4 linked regions of the Homo sapiens genome follow. The protein of the gene in region 1 interacts with the protein of each later gene in a biochemical or structural test. Each region holds a gene or a part of one and is shown on either strand. Other genes may lie near its edges. The genes, in order: MARCHF5, MFN2, MAP1B and FUNDC1.

What was found.
Region 2: of the proteins of MARCHF5 (region 1) and MFN2, one has a biochemical effect on the other in vitro, tested with the Homo sapiens proteins (one study listed by BioGRID).
Region 3: of the proteins of MARCHF5 (region 1) and MAP1B, one has a biochemical effect on the other in vitro, tested with the Homo sapiens proteins (one study listed by BioGRID).
Region 4: the proteins of MARCHF5 (region 1) and FUNDC1 form a complex in vitro, tested with the Homo sapiens proteins (one study listed by BioGRID).

Annotation. Positions count from the first base shown.
Region 1 is NC_000010.11:92,348,644-92,354,464, forward strand, and holds the end of MARCHF5 (E3 ubiquitin-protein ligase MARCHF5), read left to right. Parts: intron 1-705; coding exon 706-889; intron 890-1,027; coding exon 1,028-1,194; intron 1,195-2,447; coding exon 2,448-2,564; 3' UTR 2,565-5,321; downstream 5,322-5,821. UniProt on the Homo sapiens protein: Mitochondrial E3 ubiquitin-protein ligase that plays a crucial role in the control of mitochondrial morphology by acting as a positive regulator of mitochondrial fission and as an important regulator of immune response.
Region 2 is NC_000001.11:11,985,977-11,990,999, forward strand, and holds part of MFN2 (mitofusin-2), read left to right. Parts: intron 1-3,188; 5' UTR 3,189-3,192; coding exon 3,193-3,367; intron 3,368-5,023. UniProt on the Homo sapiens protein: Mitochondrial outer membrane GTPase that mediates mitochondrial clustering and fusion. Mitochondria are highly dynamic organelles, and their morphology is determined by the equilibrium between mitochondrial fusion and fission events.
Region 3 is NC_000005.10:72,193,628-72,198,650, reverse strand, and holds part of MAP1B (microtubule-associated protein 1B), read right to left. Parts: intron 4,786-5,023; coding exon 1-4,785. UniProt on the Homo sapiens protein: Facilitates tyrosination of alpha-tubulin in neuronal microtubules. Phosphorylated MAP1B is required for proper microtubule dynamics and plays a role in the cytoskeletal changes that accompany neuronal differentiation and neurite extension.
Region 4 is NC_000023.11:44,525,314-44,530,336, reverse strand, and holds part of FUNDC1 (FUN14 domain-containing protein 1), read left to right. Parts: intron 1-2,971; coding exon 2,972-3,100; intron 3,101-5,023. UniProt on the Homo sapiens protein: Integral mitochondrial outer-membrane protein that mediates the formation of mitochondria-associated endoplasmic reticulum membranes (MAMs).

The sequences.
Region 1 (5,821 bases):
GGATAGGGTAAGGAAAAGATTGTATTAGCTTCATTACCCCCATAGATAGGGTACCCTAGAGTTCCTGAATTGGGAAAAATGCCTGGGATCTGTAACCAAAACTGGACCTCCTACTACAGTCCCTCAATTCTAGACCTTGGAAGTGCACTTAAGGAGGGTTAGGTCTGTAGGGTAGACACTTAGCCAGCCAGAGACATCACACCCTATCTTACACACCACTAAGTAAGGAGAAAGAGCCAAAGAGAAATGAGCTTTCAGGCCATCTCTTGAAGGCCGGTCCTACCTCTTGGCTGGCTATGCTTAATCTCCTAGAAGGAAGATCAGGAAAACAGTTGTTTTGCTGGAAGACAAATAGGACTTAGAATTATATCCCAGTTCCGTAGCCCAGTCTAACCAAATCAAATAAAGGAATAGAAGCAACAATCAGAGGTCCCCGCCCCTCTATTGTAATGTAATCAGTCTGGGTCAGCCATTTTAATTTTTATTCCTGTGTGGTATGAAATGGCTTGGGAACTTTGTTTTTCCCTTGAATGAGACATTTCTTATAAATAAATCAGGACTGATAGCTTTCCAGCTTATTTTTTAAACTTTTTATTTCTGTGTATTCTTTTGAAATTAAGCATTTTCTATTAAAAAAATAGAGCTTAACATGCAACACCTCATTTGAAAAAGAAGTAATTCTAATATATGCTATCTGTTTCACAGGTTGTAGGTCATAAAGAAGGTCTGGATGTTATGGAGAGAGCTGATCCTTTATTCCTTTTAATTGGACTTCCTACTATTCCTGTCATGCTGATATTAGGCAAGATGATTCGCTGGGAGGACTATGTGCTTAGACTGTGGCGCAAATACTCGAATAAACTACAAATTTTAAATAGTATATTTCCAGGTAAGGCACTGAACTGTGGTTGTAAAGTGCATACCAAATTGATCTTGAAGAACAATAACATGCTTTTTTAGCCATGTTTGAAGGTAGTCTAACTCTTCTGATTTATTAGCACTAACGCACTGCATTTTTTTCCTCTAGGGATAGGTTGTCCTGTTCCTCGAATTCCAGCTGAGGCCAATCCTTTAGCAGATCATGTCTCTGCTACTCGAATCTTGTGTGGAGCCCTTGTCTTTCCTACTATTGCTACAATAGTTGGTAAATTGATGTTCAGTAGTGTTAACTCTAATTTACAAAGGACAATCTTGGTAAGACGGCTTTAACATTACTTATATTACCTTGCAAAAGAGAATGAAGTGTATTTGTTTTTAAAAGGTGGGGAACTGTATAAATATTCGGTCTGTGGCTCCTATGCATTAAGCCTCTATTTGAGCCTCACTATCATTCAATAGCTTGAGTGGAAATAAAAAGAGGAGAAACCACTGCAGCAGTTCTGGCCTTTTGGAACTATGTTGTAGGTGCTTTCTCTCCTGGCATATGCATGAATCATCACACCTGTCCCTCTTGCCAGTGGGATTACAGTACTTTACGATCAGACCACCTGGTTCAAATCCCATCACAGAAATTGTCTTGCTGTGAAATCTAAATCAAATGTCTGGACTTTTTGTTCCTGTAGTATGGTGATGGTAATAATCAGGATTATTGTGAGGATTGTATAAGTACTAGCACATAGTAAGCACTCATGTTGTTTGCTATTATTGTTACTCCCACTTCTCCCCTCTGGTGGCATGTAACCTGCACGGACCTTGGAGGACTGAACAAAGGGGGCAAACGTGGGAATAAAAGACAAAGACAAGAGAGTATATTTGGAAGAAGGGGTCAGGGGGCACCTTGCCTCTAGTGGACAAGGGCCCTGAGCTTTACACAGCCCTCTGTATTTATTAGGCAAAAGAGATAGTGAGAAGCAGGGGTGATTGTCGGGTAATTGTCAGTCCATTTGGCAGTTTGGTTCACAGCAGGCTTGCGAGACTGCATCATTTGAACAGTAGGCGCTAGATTTCCCAGTAGATAAGTTCAAGGAGCCCTGCACCAGGGAGTGATGGCCCCCAGCAAACCCTTTGGTGGCAGGCTCAGTGTGAGTTTACTCACATCCTGCATTCATGATAAACAGTTTGCTGTTTGGTCATATAGCCTCCAGTGGAATGCTGAGTTGGTCACGATCCCTTTGGCCTTTCTTGCTCCCAACAGTGGCAGTCTGCACATAGTGCCCTAGCATTCTTCTTTGTATATCAGAGTATATGTAGAACTACATGGAAGAAAGACTAGTCAGAAAGGATAATGGAGAAGGCATCTGTGTCCCCTGTTACCTGTAGTAACAGCGTATAGTCTGTCTCTCTCCCTATCTCATCTCCTAGTAGAAAAAGAAAACTGTTTCATTTGCAGTCATCTGAATTAGTTTAGCATCAAAGCCTACGTCTTTTGTGATCTAAATAAAATTATTTTTATTACTCTGTTTCTCTAAATCTGCATTATAAAAAGCTAATTTTCCTTTTTATTTTAGGGTGGAATTGCGTTTGTTGCCATAAAAGGAGCATTTAAAGTTTACTTCAAACAGCAGCAATATTTACGACAGGCACACCGCAAAATTCTGAATTATCCAGAACAAGAAGAAGCATAAAACTGACTTCTGGTTGTTCTGCAGTTCTCTCATCCTTATGAATCTGTTGTGTTGTTTTGATTCCATCATTAATGCACTTGTGGAGACTTGTGATAAGCTGCTGCTCCTATATTTTTTAAGAAATATAATAAAGCACTTAGGGCAGGGGAAATCATCTCGGTAATCATGGAACCTAAGGATGTGATTTGTTTTCATTGTTTGTATGTACTACTTTTATGGCAGTCATATGAACCATTATCTTAGCATGGTAAACCTGGGTTTTGTTCATATTTTCTCCAGACAGAAATGCAAAGATCAAACTGTGCAAATATTAAAAAAATGCACATGCTGTTTTATTCAAATGCCTCTTTTGTACATGTTCATGTTTAGTGTTTTCTCAGAATCAGCAACTCAAGGTACTATGAGGATTTTTCTCACTGACATAATTTGATTACATACTAAATAAGAGGATATGTTAATATGAGGAAATGTAAATTAAATTAGTTATAAATAAATAACCAAAAATGTATGTAAACATTCAAATGATTATCTGAACAAATGAGATTTTGTGGTGTTTTCTTTAACCCATGTGATGTCCTCCAAAATGTGTAGGGTAAAAATTCACAGGGCTTCCAGATCACTTTTTCAATATTAAATTTTATTTACATAATGTTGACATCTCATACTTCATGAAGTAATTTTGACTCATGCAGTCGTGTGTGTGTGTGTGTGTGTGTGTGTGTGTGTGTGTGTATTTGTGTGTTTCAGTGTTTCATCAGGTCCTTCCATCTCTGGGAGTTTTTTCAACCCATATTTCTAGAAATTACAGCTGCCAGTTTATAGTAGTTTGAGCAGAGGATGATTTGCAAAAATAAAAATAAAGTTATTTTACTCTCCTCTTGCATTGATTCAGTTATTGAGATATTCGTTGATCACCTCCTATTTCCCAGGCACTGTGCAGAGTGCTGTAGGACATAGTGGTGAACAAGACAGACTTGGTCCAAGCTCTTACAGAGTTGACAGTCTAGTTTCAGCACATAGAAAACCAGCAGTGAATAAACCAAGGTGAGGCCTTGAGCTCTTTGTTTTTATATTAATGAGGAGAAAAGTATGAAAACAAGAAGTCTTAAGTAAATATTGAGGTCATTGTTTTTGGCTTAAGTTTATTATAGAAAATCAACACTAATGTTTTTAGATTTTAATTGTCCTATTGATGAGGCTAGCACCTTAATCACTGTTTAGTTTTGTATTCATTTTTAAAAGCAATTATTGAAGCCATTTTCAATAGATTGGCCATTTTAATGTTCAGCAACCTGAATGGTTATTTTTGTTAATTAAAATTAAATTTTTAAGAGATATTTTCAAAACCCTATTTATTTTCTTGTTCACAGTAATGCATGTCAATAATAAATGTTTCCCCTTACTGATAAGCGGCCACTTTAGGAGTGTAGCAAATATAGATTGAGCTATGTTAGTTTGCAATAATATATGTTAACTTTAGTAATTAAAGACTGGTTTCTATAGTATGAATGTCTTAATTTTGAGTTATATGATGTTTATTTGAATGACTGTTGAACATTCAAATTTGTATTATTTGGAGATGAAGATTTGACTAACAGTGAGCCTTATTAAGAACACTACTACAGTTCTGAAGGGGAAATATAACATCTATGGTTATATATTTTAAAAACTTAGATTATAGGCTGTAATTATAAAATATATTGGCTTTTGTTTTCAATGTGAAAGATACATTAAATGGACACATATCTTGCAAAATTTTGTTGTATAGAACAGTTTTTAGGCAGCCTTTACTAAAGTTATGCAAACACACAGTTCCCCATTTACTACATTAATGCCCTTGACAGGGAGTAGCTGCTTGGTTTTATAGGTATTAGGGCTCATGAAGGCCGGGGAACAACTCTAATCCTTTTGGGGCAGGAGGGAGGGTTTTTTTAGGGTTGCGGGGAGGGAACTGCAAGTGCCTGAGGACCAGAGTGGCCTCTAGCCCCGAATTGAACACTTTTAAACCTAAAGAGCCTTATTATTATTAGCTCGAGAAATACCACATGCCAGTCTTCCCAGGAAGGTGACCTGCCTGACCATGAAGCAACAAAAGAGCATAGGCAGACTTAAAGTTGGATAGACCTGGGTTCAAATCATAGTTCAGCTTTCAATAACTGTATGTATGATTTTGGCTAAAGGATTTGACTTTCTCTCAACTGCAGTTTTCTTAATCTTTGAAATGCAAATAATGTTTATCTCAGAAGACTATTTCTAGGATTAACTGAGAGATTAAAGGAACAGCAGCACTTAGGCTCAAAATCGCCCCTACAAAGCAGTAGTTGTTTCTTAATTGCTAAGTAATCTGTTTGCACTCTAGGAAAAGTAAATGGAGAGGTAAAAGAAAGGCATTGGGGACAAATGAAAGAGATGATGTAGATTTTTCGGATGGGTGGGTATATTTTATTTTCCAGTTTATTTTCATATTTCTTTACTGTGTTATTTCTGGAAACTTTAATGTTTTAAACCTCTTTTATAAAATTCAATGACGACTACTAGAATTCTTTTCAAAAGTTAACTTATCTCCAAAGTGGCTGAAAATATTGTTTACCATTACATGATTATGAAATGACTGTGAAGAATATAAAATTAAACTTAGTGACTTAATTAGTCACTGCCTTGCTAACTTTGCTGTAATTTTTTTAAACGTCTTGTTTTTAATATAGCAAACTATCTCAATACTGGCTGGATTAGGTTAAATAAAGAATTTTTATGTTCTCTAGGTGTACTTTGTTAAATCTCAAAACATTCTGTACATACATAATTTTTTTTAATCACAGTTATCGAGATACTAGTTTTTGTAAGTAAAAGTAATCTGAATTTAAAAAAAAAACTGTATGGAAGAATTTGTCCTAATTTTGTAAACAGGCTAGCCTATATTCTAAGTATGTTCTAATGACTAAACTACATCCCCACTCACCCACCCTCAAAGCCTCTTGCACTGAGTATAATTAAGCAACTAGACAAGATCTGTGGGTGGTCTCATGCCATGATGTCTTAAAGTGTATTCGAGTGAGTTGGGAACACAAACTGCTTCTGAGATATTAAGAACTTAAATTTCTGAAGTAGAAGATTAGAATCCTCTAGAATGAGTTAAAGGTCTTTTCCTTGCATCCATTTGGGGATTATATTGGTTTTAAGTCATTTCATTACCCCATCTGAGAGACAGATGCTAAGAGGAGAAAGGGCATAGAATTGAACAGTCCTGGATGCATATG
Region 2 (5,023 bases), on another chromosome or scaffold:
GCTGAGAAAACATCTCTCATAGCTGTGGCGTCATGCTGAGGAGGAATGTAGAAACGGAAGTGGGGTCACTTCCTTCCCTTGTCTCCAGAGGAATCATTAACATTGCACAAGAACTTGTTGGTTTGGGCACACATGTGGGTCCCTATCCCGCTTTGGGTCGGTCTGTCTTCTGCCCACTCTTTGGGATGGTTAGTTACTAAAAGTCCGTTTTGGCATTTGGTCTTCATGTACCTCTTCCGGGTGTTCTTTCTGCTTTTCAGGACCTTGTGCAACATACTTTGGCCCCATTTGGAAGTTTTTCACGTGTGCTTGCTGGGGAGCAACACCTCATTTCCAATCTAGAGAGAGTGAGCTTACTGCTGGGTGGAGAACTGAGCAGTAAGATTAGGGTGGCTGGGGAGGCAGTGACAGACCCAGGCACAGTCAGCTGTGCACACACCCCCTCATCCAGGAGGGCCTTTGCCCTTTGACTTCCTGGGATTGGTGGGCTCTGCTCAAGAAGTAGCTTTCGCCGTGGTGGGAACTCTGAGGGACCTGGCAGGGGTCCACTTTTGGGGTCGGAATTCCCAGTCTTACCCTGGGCACTCCTTCTGGTGTGTACGCCTCTTTTTGATCTTTTTTTTTTTTTTTTTGAGATGGAGTCTTGCTCTATTGCTCAGGCTGGAGTGCAATGGCGCGATCTTAGCTCACTGCAACTTCCAGCTCCCAGGTTCAAGCAATTCTCGTGCCTCAGCCTCCCGAGTAGCTGGGATTACAGGTGCCTGCCACCATGCCTGGCTAATTTTTGTATTTTTAGCAGAGAAGGGGTTTCACCATGTTGGCCAGGCTGGTCTCAAGTGATCCACCCGCCTGGGCCTCCCAAAGTGCAGGGATTATAGGTGTGAGCCACCATGCCCAGCCTCTTTTGACCTTTGACCAAAGACCTCTAGGACTTTGGAGTCAAGTCTCATGACCTCTAAAATGTTGTTATATGAAAAGATAAGCTACAAAGATATGTAGGATTGAGTGAGAGCAAGAGAGACAGTCACACAAAAATAGACTGTGATAATATGGCTGGGTACGGTGGCTCACGCCTGTATTCCCAGCACTTCGGGAGGCCGAAGCAGATGGATCACTTGAGGTCAGGAGTTTGAGACCAGCCTGGCCAACATGGTGAAGCCCTGTCTACGAAAAATAAAAAAATTAGCTGGGTGTGGTGGTACATGCCCGTACTCCAAGCTACTCAGGAGGCTGAGTGAGGCAGGAGGATCGCTTGAACCTGGGAGGTGGAGGTTGTAGTGAGCTGAGATTGCACCACTGCACCCAGCCTGGGTGACAAAAGTGAGACTCTGTCTCAAAAAAAAAAAAAAAATTATAATAAACAAAATGTTGGGCCGGGCGTGGTGGCTCATGCCTGTAATCCCAGCACTTTCGGAGGACAAGGTGGGTGGATCATTTGAGGTCAGGAGTTCAAGACCTACCTGGCCAACATGGTGAAACCCCACCTCTACTGAAAATACAAAAATTAGCCGGGCATGGTGGCGAGTGCCTGTAGTCCCAGTTGCTTGGGAGGCTGAGGCAGGAGAATAGCTTGAACTCGGGAGGTGGTGGTTGCAGTGAGCCGAGATCATGCCACAGCACTCCAGCCTGAGCGATAGAGCAAGACTCTGTCTCAGAAAAAAAAAAAAAAAATGTTGGCTGGGCATGGTGGCTCACGCCTTTAATCCCAGCACTTTAATCCCAACACTTTGGGAATCCAAAGTGAGAGGATCATTGGAGCCCAAGAGTTTGGGAGCAGCCTGGGCAACATAAGAAGACCCTGTCTCTACAAAAAATTTTAAAAAAATTAGTGGGGCGTGGTGGTGCATGCCTGTGGTCTCATGTACTCAGGAGGCTGAGGTGGGAGGATTGCTTGGACCCAAGAGGTTGAGGCTGCAGTGAGCTGTGATTGCGCCACTGCACTCCAGCCCAGGTAACAGCGAGATCTTGTCTCAAAATAAAAAATAAATAAGTAAATAAAATGTTAACATTGCTTATCACAAAATGATGGGGTTATGGGTTTTTTTCCCCTTCAGTTTCCAAATTTTCTGTAGCACACCTGTGCTATACTAAAATAGACCAATAGTTTTTGTGTGTGTGTGTGTGTGTGTGTGTTTTTCTTTGTTGAGACTTGGTCTGGCTCTGTCACCCAGGCTGGAGTACAGTGGTGCGATCTCGGCTCACTGCAACCTCCGCCTCCCAGGTTCAAGCAATTCTCTGCCTCAGCCTCCCAAGTAGCTGGGATTATAGGCGGCCACCACCACACCCGGCTATATTTTTTTGTATTTTTAGTAGAGACGGGGTTTCATCATGTTGGCCAGGCTGGTCTTGAACTCCTGACCTTGTGATCCACTTGCCTCAGCCTCCCAGAGTGCTGGGATTACAGGCATAACCCACCATGCCTGGCTGTTTTTTTTTTTTTTTTTAAATAGAGACGGGGTCCTACATTGCCTAGGCTTGTCTCGAACTCCAAAGTTCAAGTGATCTGCCTGCCTTGGCCTCTCAAAGTGCTGGGATTATAGGTATGAGCCACTGAACCTGGCCCCTAACCAATAGTGTTTTTATGTGGTCTTGCTCTGTCTCCCAGGCTAGAGTGCAGTGGACTGATCATAGGTCACTGCAGCCGAAACTCCTGGGCTCAAGTGACCCTCCCACCTCAGACTCCCAAGTAGCTAGGACTGCAGATGCATGCCACTGTGTCATGCTAATTTTGTTTTATTTTTTGAGACAAAATCTCGCCCTGTCACCCAGGCTGGAGTACAATGGCATGATCTTGGTTCATTGCAGCCTCCATCTCCCAGGTTCAAGTGATTCTCCTGTCTCAGCCTCCCAAGTAGCTGGGATTACAGGTGTGTGCCATTGGGTCTGGCTAATTACTGTATTTTTAGTAGAGACGGGGGTTTCACCATGTTGGCCAGGCTGGTCTTGAACTCCTGACCTCAGGTGATCCACCTGCCTCAACCTCCCAAAGTTCTGAGATTACAGGGGTGAGCCACCGCGCCCAGCCTGAGACACTGTTCTTATCTCACCGTCCTTTGTTCTAGTCCTGGAGGTTGCAGTGACCTGAGATCCCCATATTCTTGATTCTCCCCAAAGCATTCCGCCATCTCCCTAGCAGGATGTCCCGAGGTAGGTGTTGCTGGGTTCGCTCACGTTAGCTTCTCTTGCAGCGCAATGTCCCTGCTCTTCTCTCGATGCAACTCTATCGTCACAGTCAAGAAAAATAAGAGACACATGGCTGAGGTGAATGCATCCCCACTTAAGCACTTTGTCACTGCCAAGAAGAAGATCAATGGCATTTTTGAGCAGCTGGGGGCCTACATCCAGGAGAGCGCCACCTTCCTTGAAGGTAAGGGGGCACCGGCTCAGCCAGGCCCGCTCTTACCTGTTTAGATATTTAGCTAGTGGGATTTGCGGGTGGGGAGGTATATCTCTGCTCCCAGGGAAGTCATAACCAGATAGCCTTAGAAATGCTCTGCTCTTGAAATCATGTGGAATTGGAGTCTGGGGAGATGAGGCCAGGAAGACAAGGGAACTGCCATTTAGTAATTACTTTAAGAAGTCCACATGTTTTGTTTCATTTAATCATGAAAGATAGGTGAATCTTATCCCCATCTACAAGGCAAGCAAATTGAGGTTTGAGAGTTGTCCGATACCTTGTAAGTAATAGATCAGGGTTTTACCCAGGTGTCTCCAACTCCGGAGCCCACGTGTTTTCCTTTGCCTAGTTCTGGCTGCCATTAATACCAGGCACTGTTTGGGTGTCAGTGATCCCTGACCAGGGCGCCCTTTCTTTGATATTTTTAGATTGGTGACAGAACTATAGGAAACTCACGTCACCTATGCCTTTTCTACTAGTTACTAATTTGAGCCCAACCTCTAGTTCCTTGTCTATCAGCAGAGAAGGACTGGTTCCCAGGGCCCCGCTCGTCTGAGTGTCAACTCCAGCACTGGCTTCCTCAGGCTCCCTCTTTAGAAGGACACTTTGGCGCCAGGTCCTGAGATTGTCTGTGGAGACCCAGTAACTGAGTCTTATCTGCCCTTGGTTTCCTCACTTGTGAAAGTGGGGCTCAGGTGTGAACAGTGGTTTCAGATTCTAGTCTGCAGAACCCTAGAAGTTCAGTGGTGGTGCTTCGGGGGTTGGCCCCTGGCTCAGGGGGGCCACCTTCTTTCCATTCTGCTTTCAAATAGAGCAGCTTGGCTTCTCGTTGTTTTACATGCCAGGCTGCTACACGAGGCTCCCTTTGAAGAAAGAGACTGTCCAACTTCATGCCCTCATCTGTGCCCTGCCCTTTGCGTGGCGCTTGATGCCACAGAAGGTGTTTCCTAAATACTTGTTGAACTAAAACAAATCTGAATTTTAAAGTAGTATGATTGGTAGTTGAAATAATCCCAACTCATTGCCTGTTTATCAGTGGCTATGGTGTGCCAGCCGTGTGCCAGGTGCTGGGCATGCAGAGATGGGGTAGATCAGGCCGCTCCCCTCTGGGAGCCCAGACTAACCCTCTTGGAAGCTCTGAGTCACCTACTCAGATGATGTGGTGGACAAACACATGCGTAATGCAGGTGTTTATGTGATGCATGCTTTGATTTCTCTGTGTGTGAAAATATGAGGCCTCCCCTGTTGTTTAAATGGAAGGGAAAGAGCTGGAGTGATCCTGAGCTGTGCTGGGTCAGGGAAAGAATGGTTCCTGCCTGGGCACTGTTTCTAACGGGCAGGTAACAAGAGCTTGTTGGCCTGCTGGCTCTCGCTTTTAAGTGTAGTCACATGCTTGAGAGCCAGCTTCCTCCGAGGGACATTCCAAAGGCCATGCCCAGGTGCCCATATAAGGGAGGAATATTGATGCATCTGGGGCAGAGGTGACCGGTGGACATAGCGGGAGGGGAGATGGGGGTGTTGTTGACTTGGTCATTTCCTTTCATGGCGCTGGCTGTGGGGGAAATTCACTGGGCAGGCCCTTGTCATGCTTCAGATGCTTTCGGAGTGTTCTCAGGGCTGGGGCCT
Region 3 (5,023 bases), on another chromosome or scaffold:
GAGTGAGGCATATAAGGACATATCTCTGGGAGGAGCAACATCGGATAGAGTATCTTCTTGGAGAGGAGAAGCGATCTGAGAAGGGGTATGAGCAGAAGAGGTGGACGGGGAGGCCTCTACCTGAGATACTGAGATGAGCTCAGAAAGATCATTATCTTGGGTGTAGGACGGCTCCTCCATAGGTGGTATCTTATGTGATAAACTGGAGTCCTGCATGTCAGAAGGACTGTAGTCCACTTCAGTTGGCCCATTTTCAGTGATGTGAAGCACGCCTGCACCCACTGTAGGGTGATCTGGAGACTGTCGACTGAAGTCCATAGCAAGGGATTGCTCAGGAGATTCTTGGCCAAATTCAATAGACATTGAGGACTGTTCAGATCTGTGATCTTGAACGGGTGTCCTGGACTTTGCAGTTTTAGGGGAGAAATCTGGTGGAGAAATTGACATCGGTCTTGGGCATTCTTCTTTAGATGGAGACATTTCTGTTTCCTGGAATGTGGTAGGTGTTTGCACAACAGACACTGAAAGGGAGTCATCTACTTCTGTGGAATGTGGGGAGCCAACCTCAGCATGCAGAGATGGAGACACATCATCTGTTGTTGGCTCTGGAAATGAGCTCGTAGCCACTGAGGCTGTGGACACTGAGGCCACACCCTCCATATGAGAGTACGTGTCTTCTGCTACGCCCTCATCAACAGGAGTAGCTGACTTGTCTGAGACAGTACCTTCAGAAATGGACATCTTAGTGTCTTCTTTAAAAGATCCAAACTGACTGACATCTATTTGTGTGGGAGAAACATCTCCTAATTTCCTTTCATCCAGAGCCAGTGCTGGTTGAGAACTCATGGCTTCAACATCATCAGTTTTCTTTTCTTGGCCAAAGTCTTCTTTTATTGGTGCAAAGTCTGTGCTTTTCCCTTCCTGTTTGTCTTGGTAAAGACTAGTAGAAGTCATTTCAGAAACTGGACTTACTTGGTCTGGAGAGCCTTGTTTTCCACTCTTTTCTTCAAAAGGACTTTCGGCACCTCTGCCAGAAGCCTTGTCATCAGCACTTAGAAAACTTTCATAAGCAGACTCGGATCCAATGAGGGGCGGGCTGCGTAAAGGAGACAAAACTTTTTCAATAGGAGACTCTGAGTCAGGCACGGGCTCATCCATGGGGCTTACTGAAGCCCTTTCATTCTCATCTTTGGCATCACTGAATTCAAAACTCACTGGAACTGCTGGTGGTTTTTCAATGACTTCTGTAGGGAGATGACTGGATTTCTCGTCAGTAGGAGATTGATAGTAAGGTGTGTGACCAGCACTGCCAGTCACGGACTGAGATGGTGACACCACTTCCAGAGTCTTGTCCTCAGGACTAGCACAATGTTCTTCAACTACTTCTTGGGTCACCTCAGGAGACACCGGGGCTACTTCTGCCTCTGCAGAGACTTTAATCTCATTGGGCGTCAGAGAGAAGTTCACACTACGTTCACCCAGGGGGGTCTTTTCTAAGGGTGATGGTGGAGATGGACTCAGGGACGGGCTCTTCGATGGGCTGACCTTTTCACTTGAAACAGCTGAGATGCTATCTTTGATGTCCAAAGTGGTGCTGGCTTTCACTTCAGAGCAGTAAGCATCACGTAAAGCAGATCTGCTGAATTTGTCTTCCTCCATGGAAGAGGGTGGTGATATGGTAGAGGCTGAAGCATTGTAATCCTTGCCATCAGTGGCATCTGTTTTTGATCCTTCAGAAAATCCGTTGAGCGGTGTAACATCAGCAGGTTTAGAGTATTCCTGAGAATACAATGAAGATTCATATTTGGTGATATTTACGAATTCCTGAGAAGGGGACTCCGTCTCTTCATTGTTGGTCTCATCACTCATCACGTCTCGAGGGGTAGACATCTCATCCATGGGGGTGGGCTCACTGGATATCTCAATAGTAGACTGAGTGTAGCCAGAGGTGGCAGTGAATTCCTCAGGCTGGTCTTCTCGATTCTCCTCATCAGAAGCGGTGGCCTCGCTCTCTGAGCCTCCAGGTAAAGTCTCATCATGAATTGAAGATGCAGGTTCTCGGCCAGGAGACTGGGCTCCTAGTTGCTTGGTTGGTGTGGTGAGGAATCCATACTGCTCCTCGGCACCACCAGCCTCTGCAGCCTTGTCGACCACAGCCATCACATAGTCTTCAGCTTCCATTTTTTCCGGCTCATATTCCTCCTCTCTGGCATCTTCAGCTTTGTCCTCCTCATCAGCCTCCTCTTCAGATTGTTCAGCCTCTCCTTTCTCAATGGCCTCATCCATGTCTTCTTCGGCTCGGTCATCCCCACTGGCCACAGACTCCCTCTTCTCCCTGATGTATGCATCAGCCTCCGCCTTGGCACTTTCCTCATCCTCAGTGGGGCTGTGCTTGGAGGCGCTCACACATACGTGTTCCTCCCCATCCTCTTCTGGCTCCTCAGCCTCCTCAGTTTCTGCCTTCTCTTCATAGTCTCCAGTCTCTGAAGATTCTTCAAAACCGGCTCCTTCATCTTCAAATTTTTCAATGTCGTCTACTCCCTGCTTCTCGACGGGCTCCAGCTCCTCAGGTGTCTGTTCACATTCGCCCTCCCCTTCAGTGGTAGTGATTCCCTCATCAGGGGACTCGGCAGGACCTTTGGTGACTTCTCTCTCCTTCTGGATGACGTAGGCTTCGACTGGCTCAGTTTCCTTCAGTTTCTCTTCGTCTTCGATTAGCTCCAGCTGAGGCTTGATGTCCTTTGTTACATCGACCTCTTCAGCCTTTAACTCTTCAAAGTCCTTGGTTAGATCCTCAGGAGATGACATAAGGGACCTCTCAGCTTCGAGTTCTTTGGCAGGGCCAATGGCTGCTATTCCAGCTGCCGCCATGACAGCTGCTGTGGTGGCTCCAGTGCCGACAGCTGCAGCGACAGCCTCTGCGGCCTTGCCTTCCTTCTTAATGACTTTTATTTTCCCCTTCTCCTTTGGCTTTCCGGCAGCAACAGAATCTTTCTTGACAGACTCTTCCTTCTTGGGTACTTTTGGTTTTAAAGCAGCTGGTTTTTTTGCTTCAGACAGAGGAGTAGATGATTTCTTTGCGTCTTTAGGGAGCTTCTTAATTTCTTTTTTGGGTTCCTTTTCTTCCTTTTTCACTTCCTTCTTCTCTTCCTTCTTAACTTCCTTCTTGACTTCCTTTGGCGGTGTTTCTTTCTTAACCTCTTTCTTGGGTTCTTTTTTCTCTTCTTTCTTGATCTCTTTTTTGACTTCTTTTTTCACCTCTTCCTTTTTTGGTTTTTCCTCCTTCTTGATAGGTGTTTTGTCCTCCTTTTTAGCCACTTCTTTCTTTGGCTTTTCTTTCTCCTCTTTCTTGTCTTCAGGCTTTACCTTTGTTTCCTTTTTCACCGTCTTCTCCTTGGCAGCTTTGGGTTTGACATCTGTGGCTTGCTTCTCAGCCACCTCGGCTTTCACTGGAGATGGCTCTTCTTTGCTGGGAACCTCCTTTTCAGTCACTGAAGGTTTGGTCTCTGTTTTTATTGGCTTGTCTTTTTTCACCATTACCTTTTCTTTGCTTTCAACTTTGGGTGGCTTTTCCACGTGATTCACTTTTGTGACCTCAGGGGTTTCTTCTTTTGACTCCTTGCGCACGGATTTGCTAGGAAGTGGTTTTGCGGCTGGCTTCAGACTTTCTCGGCTATCAGCCCTCTGTTTCAGTTTTGTTTGTTTCACCACAGGAGTGGGCACCTGGCCAGTGAGATCCTTTTGGGTGGCCAGTGGCTGCTTCAGAAAGTCTAGATGTTTGAGCTTTTCCAACCCTTCCAGGATGTTGTACTGGGTGCTGTTCCCAGGAAACAGGACTCGGATGATTTTCTCCGCAGGGTTTGCTGGATGCCACACAATCAAAGATGAGACTGAAGTTAAGTAGGAAATCGGGAGATCTACTTCTTGACCATTAGGCAGAATGAATTCAGCCTTGTCTTTGTTGGTACCAGTCCACTGCTGCATAAAATACTGCATTTCCTTGCTGCTCTTGACTGGATTAAGCACATACATCTCAAGTTTACCTACTCCCATTTTTTGGAAAAGAATGACAGGATCAATAGTATTGCCTACACTTCTAAACAGAGGTTCTGGTTTCATGGACAATTTGTTTAGGTACTGGAGAGTGAAGCAGGCTTCTTCTATGCTTCTCTTCATCTTGATGTTTGGCTCTGGATTTTTGAGATTTTCAGGTACATTGAGAAATACAACTCCTAAGTCAGGGGAGATGAGGTTTTTCATCCAGTCACTATTTGTGGTGGAGCCCTGGGACTGTTCTTCCTCGAGCTCTGCAATTTTCCGCTGTAACATGCTGTTTATTCCAGGCAAATTGTCATCCCCAATGTGGGTGAGCAGGATGGAGTCCACTCGGTCTAAGTGTCGGATGAGCTTCCAGAAGCAGGATTTTCTCTCTGATCCGCCATTGATGAGCATATTGAAACCATTCACTGCAAACAAGGCAGAATCGCCCCTCCCTCCTGGAAAAATATAACAGCAGGGCTTGGAGAGCTTCAGAAATCCACCCGATGTGGGAGGTTCCAAGATGTCAAAGGGAGATGGGACTTCCACTGATTCTGAGAGATACTCGGTAAACTCAGAAAGTCCTTCCATTTCTGGCAAGATAGAAGCTGAATTGAGTTTAATATTGATGAAGTCTTGGAGATTGTGTCTGTCAAGATTGGAGTTCTTCCAGTCCCCTTCTTCAGGACAGAACAGGGTTAAGCTGGCTTTGTTGGCAGGATGGGTGGTGCTTAGTAACTCCCCGATCTGGGTTTTAAAGAAAGAAAGAAAGAAAGAAAAGGTGTAAGTGATTATCATCACTGATCCATCATCTCCAGCTATAACTATGTGTTACAGGATCACAGGATGCACATAGGACCAGTTTCAGACATGCACTCTCATAGTGATGTTGGTTGCTTAAATGCTGAAATACTTCCCTACTGGAAGGTGAACAGCCTTTGTCCTGAGCCCCGCTGCTACTGGCTTCTACCTCAACCAGTACCCA
Region 4 (5,023 bases), on another chromosome or scaffold:
ACGGAGCCCGGCCTGGAATTATTTTATTTTATTTATTTATTTTTAACTTGGAAGCTTTTATTCTAATAAAAGTACCTTATGTAATCCCATTAAATATTTTAGTGTTATAGGAAGTCAAATGTTCAAAAAGCAGTCATCACTGCCCCATTCCCTCCCCAGTCTGTTGGCTTGCATTTCCTTGTAGTTGCAGATGAATTTTGTGTGGACAAGACTGAATTGGGTCCTGTATGTATTGGTTGGTTAAGTTGGTTGTACCTGAACCCCACTTGGGGCAGATTGCTTGTCCTTGGTCATCTCTGTACTGGAGCAGGGTGCTCAATTTAGACTGGTATTCTTCGGTTTGATCAGAAGTGTACTTCTCAGCTGGGTGCCGTGGCTCACTGTAATCCCAGCACTTTGGGAGACCAAGGCAGGAGGATGGCTTGAGGCCAAGAGTCCAAGACCAGCCTGGGCAACATAGTGAGACTTCATCTCTCTCTCTCTTTTTTAAGGCATTAATATCTTTAGCATCTCAAGGTTTTTCATTTTTCCTGCAAGGGAACAGATTCTCAAGGGAATTTGTTCAGTGATGGTAGATCACTCCAGCATCAAAGATCATTCTCTTGTTAGTAGACATGCTAGGTTGGGTCCTTTGGGATAATCTAGCTCATCCATTTTGTTGCTGAGAGTCATTATTTGAGCCAGGTTGGTTAATACAGCTTTTGAGATTTAGTCTTTATTCATTGTCTTTGTTATCATTTATTTACTATGTCTCATTCATCTGGCATTAGTTGGGACTCTAGGGATATAGAGATTCACAGCCCATATGGTCAGTGCTGAGCTAGAAGGGTGTGTTTAGTGCTGAGAGAGCAGAGGGAAGACGCTCTGTCTGCTTGGAGGTGTTAGGGAAGTCTTCTTCCAAAGAGGCGTTAGTATCTTTAGCATCTCAAGGTTTTTCATTTTCCTTGCAACTGTTTGACATTTTCCCCCAAAACGTAGAGAATTCTTTAAATTATACAAAATCTTTATCTCAGATAACACTGGGTTTACTAATTATCAGTGACAAATGGCTATGTAAAAATATTTTGTGTATAGAATGCTGTTTGTGAGAATTTGTTTAATCTGTCTCATTAAAATGGTTTCCTTTATTCATTTGCTGGGGATTGGGGGGTGGATAAGGGGTCTCACCCAGGGAATATAGTTAAGGTTTGTTTTTTGTTTTTTTAATTTCACTTCCAATTTAACTCATGGCATGAAGATTAGCTTTTTAAAAAAAACTTTGTAACTTAAAATGTTAAGTCTTGAAAATGACAGTTGAATTGGGAGTTGCTGATGAGTGGTGGTATAGATAATATTTTTGTTCTGCCGGGCGCGGTGGCTCATGCCTGTAATCCCAGCACTTTGGGAGGCCGAGGCGGGTGGATCACGAGGTCAGGAGATCGAGACTATCCTGGCTAACACGGTGAAACCCCTTCTCTACTAAAAAACAAAAAATCAGCCGGGCGTGGTGGCAAGTGCCTGTAGTCCCAGCTACTCGGGAGGCTGAGACAGGAGAATGGCATAAACCCGGGAGGCGGAGCTTGCGGTGAGCAGAGATCACGCCACTGCACTCCAGCCTGGGCGACAGAGCGAGACTCCGTCTCAAAAAACAAAAATAAAAAAAATTTTGTTCTAACCAAAAAATAAAGCCATATACATACATAAAATATTTGTACTTCTCACAAGCTTTGGATTAAGAAGAAATGTTAAGATTCAGCAAAAAGTAAAATTCTGCAAAAGCTTCAAAGTAATCAACTATTTTGATTACTTAGTGCAAGCCAATAAGAAGTCTTTTCAATTTATATGTAGAATTTTCCTAAGGTTCATCATCACCTCCATGCCTGTGACTCAAATTGCTGTATCAAGTACTAACAGAAAAAGCCTTCACTTGCCATTTGATTTGATCACCACTGTTTTGCTGAGGCTGGAGTTTGAAGTGATAGTAGATGAATAAATACAAGAAGAAATGCAGATAAACAAATTCTTCTATGGAGTCATTCACAGACAAAATAGAACCTAAGATTTCTAGTCAGCCTGTTTATGCAAAATCAGATATTTTTATTATTTAAAGTATTTTCTGTGTGGCTAAAAGTCAGTGTGTTCATTCAGGGTGCAAATGGCAAAAGAAAAGTGATGCACTAAAAAATTACAAAGAAAGCATAAGCTTGACAGAAGTGATTTATAATGGTATATATGGCTATTTTATTATTTGGAGGCACTGAGTTACTGGACTGGCTTGCACACACACTGTTGTTCCTGTTCAGATATTGCAGTCTCTCAGTAGTACCATATGATAATTTTTCTTATGATAGGCATTTAGCTATAGTTTTATTAAAAGGATTTATGGCATGAAACTTGTGTAGAGTGCAGTTTGTTTTATATTCTACTTTCAAAAGCAATTACCAGAAAGTATTCTTAATTTAAGTAAAGAGAGCTATTTAAATACTTACCAGGCTACTTAAATTTCTTTAGTGATCTAATAACTGATTGGCTTATGATCCCTTATAATTAAAGATCTATTTAATTAAAAAGTATTTTTAAATTAGCTATATAATCTAGATAATCTCTGTATCTTTTTAACTAATTCCCTATTCCAAAAGGTGTGACAGAATGATAGTATAGTTAAAAGACAGTTTTTGGAATCATTTTCCCATCATGTACTAAACACTGTTCATCACATCTAAATAATTAGTTACTTACTTATGCTTAATATCTGTTTTCCCTAACAGACCTGAAGCTCTCTGAGGATAGGGGCTTATGTCTCCCTTATTCAGTACTTAGCATAGGGTAGGCACTAGTGTCTGTTAAATGAATAAACTAGTGGAGAAAAAGCAATTTCTTAGCTATAAGTTTTATAGGTTACTAGAACTCTTAAGTGTTTATATATTCTTGGCTATTATAGTCAGCAACCTAGTTGGTATAGTATTGATAATTTTTATTATATTTTTTGCAGATTGCTAGTCATAGTGGCTATGTGCAGATTGACTGGAAGAGAGTTGAAAAAGATGTAAATAAAGCAAAAAGACAGATTAAGAAACGAGCGAACAAAGCAGCACCTGAAATCAACAATTTAATTGAAGAAGTAAGATGATATATAATTTTGACTTTTTTTTTTTTTTTCCTTTTTTTGGTTAATGGGTATCCCTTAGCAGAAAATGTGACCGGGGGGGATTACTGTCTTTTTTAAAAATGGTGTTTTTGGTTATATATCTAGAGTGTTAAGTAAAATTTGAGATCACACCACTACTTAAATCAGTCATTATTTTTTTTTTTTTGGTGGTTATCATAGATTCCCCTGCATATCTCTAGCTCACTTTGATCTTGTTGTAAAAACTAAGAACATTCTTTTCAACATATTTCCTCTGCCTTTATAAATGAACATGTACAGGTGTAGTAAAACTTAAAAGTACACATTTTTTTTCTTGAGGATAGTTTGAAAATATGTTTTTTTAATATGATTAATATATTTTATTAATGTTTTCAGGTGTAATTTGACCCTTTACTTTTGTACTGTTTAAAATGGAATTGAATACTTCCTTGCCTTTGTTTTTGTTTTATCCTTTTACCTCCCTCAACTTTTTAGTTTGAAAAAATTCAAACCAGTTAAAAAGTTGAAAGACAAATATAGTGAATATCTCAATACCCTTCATCTATTCACCAAATTGTTCATGATTTGCCGTGTTTACTTTATCTGTGTGTGGGTGACACACACAGATAATTTTTTTTCCAAAGTATTTAAGATGTCATAACTTTTCATCCCTAAATACTTCAGTATGTATCTTCTAAGAGTACAGATATTCTCTTATACAACTATGAATACGCCCCCCCCCCTTTTTTATTTTTTTACTGTGTGGGAACTGCCACTTCAGAAACTTTTTTTTTCTTTTTTGAGACGGGTTCTCGCCCTGTAGCCCAGGCTGGAGTGCAGTGGCGTAATCTTGGCTCACTGCAACCTTCGCCTCTCGGGTTCAAGCGATTCTCCTGCCCCAGCCTCCTGAGTAGCTGGAATTACAGGCACGCGCCACCTCTCCCAGCTAATTTTTTGTATCTTTAGTAGAGACAGGGTTTCACCATGTTGGCCAGGCTGGTCTCGAACTCCTGACCTCATGATCCACCCGCCTCAGTCTCCCGAAGTGCTGGGATTAGGGGCGTGAGCCACCAGGCCCGGCCAACTGTTTTTTTTTGTTTTTTTTTTTTGTTTTTTTTGAGACAGGTCTCATTCTGTCTCGCTGTGTTGCTTAGGCTGGAATGCAGTGGCATCATCATGGCTCACTACAGCCTTGACTCCCCTGGCTCAAATGGTCCTCCCACCTCAGCCTCCCAAGTAGCTGGGACTACAGGTGTGCATGATGCCTCGGCCTCCCAAAGTGCCAGGATCACAGGCGTGAGCCCCCATGCCTGGCCAAATGCCATTATTAATAAAAAAAAAATGTAACATGAGATAATAGTATTTCCTTTCTTTGTTAATTTTTTTTAGACAGGGTCTTGCTCTGTCACCCAGGCTGGAGTGCAATGGTGTGATCACAGCTCACTGCAGCCTCGAGCACCTGGGCTCAAGTGATCCTCCCACCTCAGCCTCTCAAGTAGCTGGGACTACAGGTGCATGCCCAGCTAATTTTTATATTTTTGTAGAGATGAGGTTTTGCCATGTTGCCAGGCTGGTCTCAAACTCCTGGGCTCAAGCAGCCTGCCTGCCTCAGCCTCCCAATGTGCTGGGCATTACAGGTTTGAGCCACCACACCCAGCCAGTATTTTCTAATATGCAGTTCATATTAATATTTTTCTACAAAATATCTTGTGTGGCTTTTTTTTTCCCAATTAAGAATTATATGCCAGGTACAGTAGTTCACTCCTGTAATCCCAGCACTTTGGGAGGCTGAGGCAGGAGGATCTCTTGAGCCTAGGAGTTTGAGATCAGCCTGGGTAAGAGAGAGAGACCTTGTCTCTACAGAAAATACAAAAATTAGAACGGTGGCATGCACCTATAGTCTCAGCTACTTGGGAG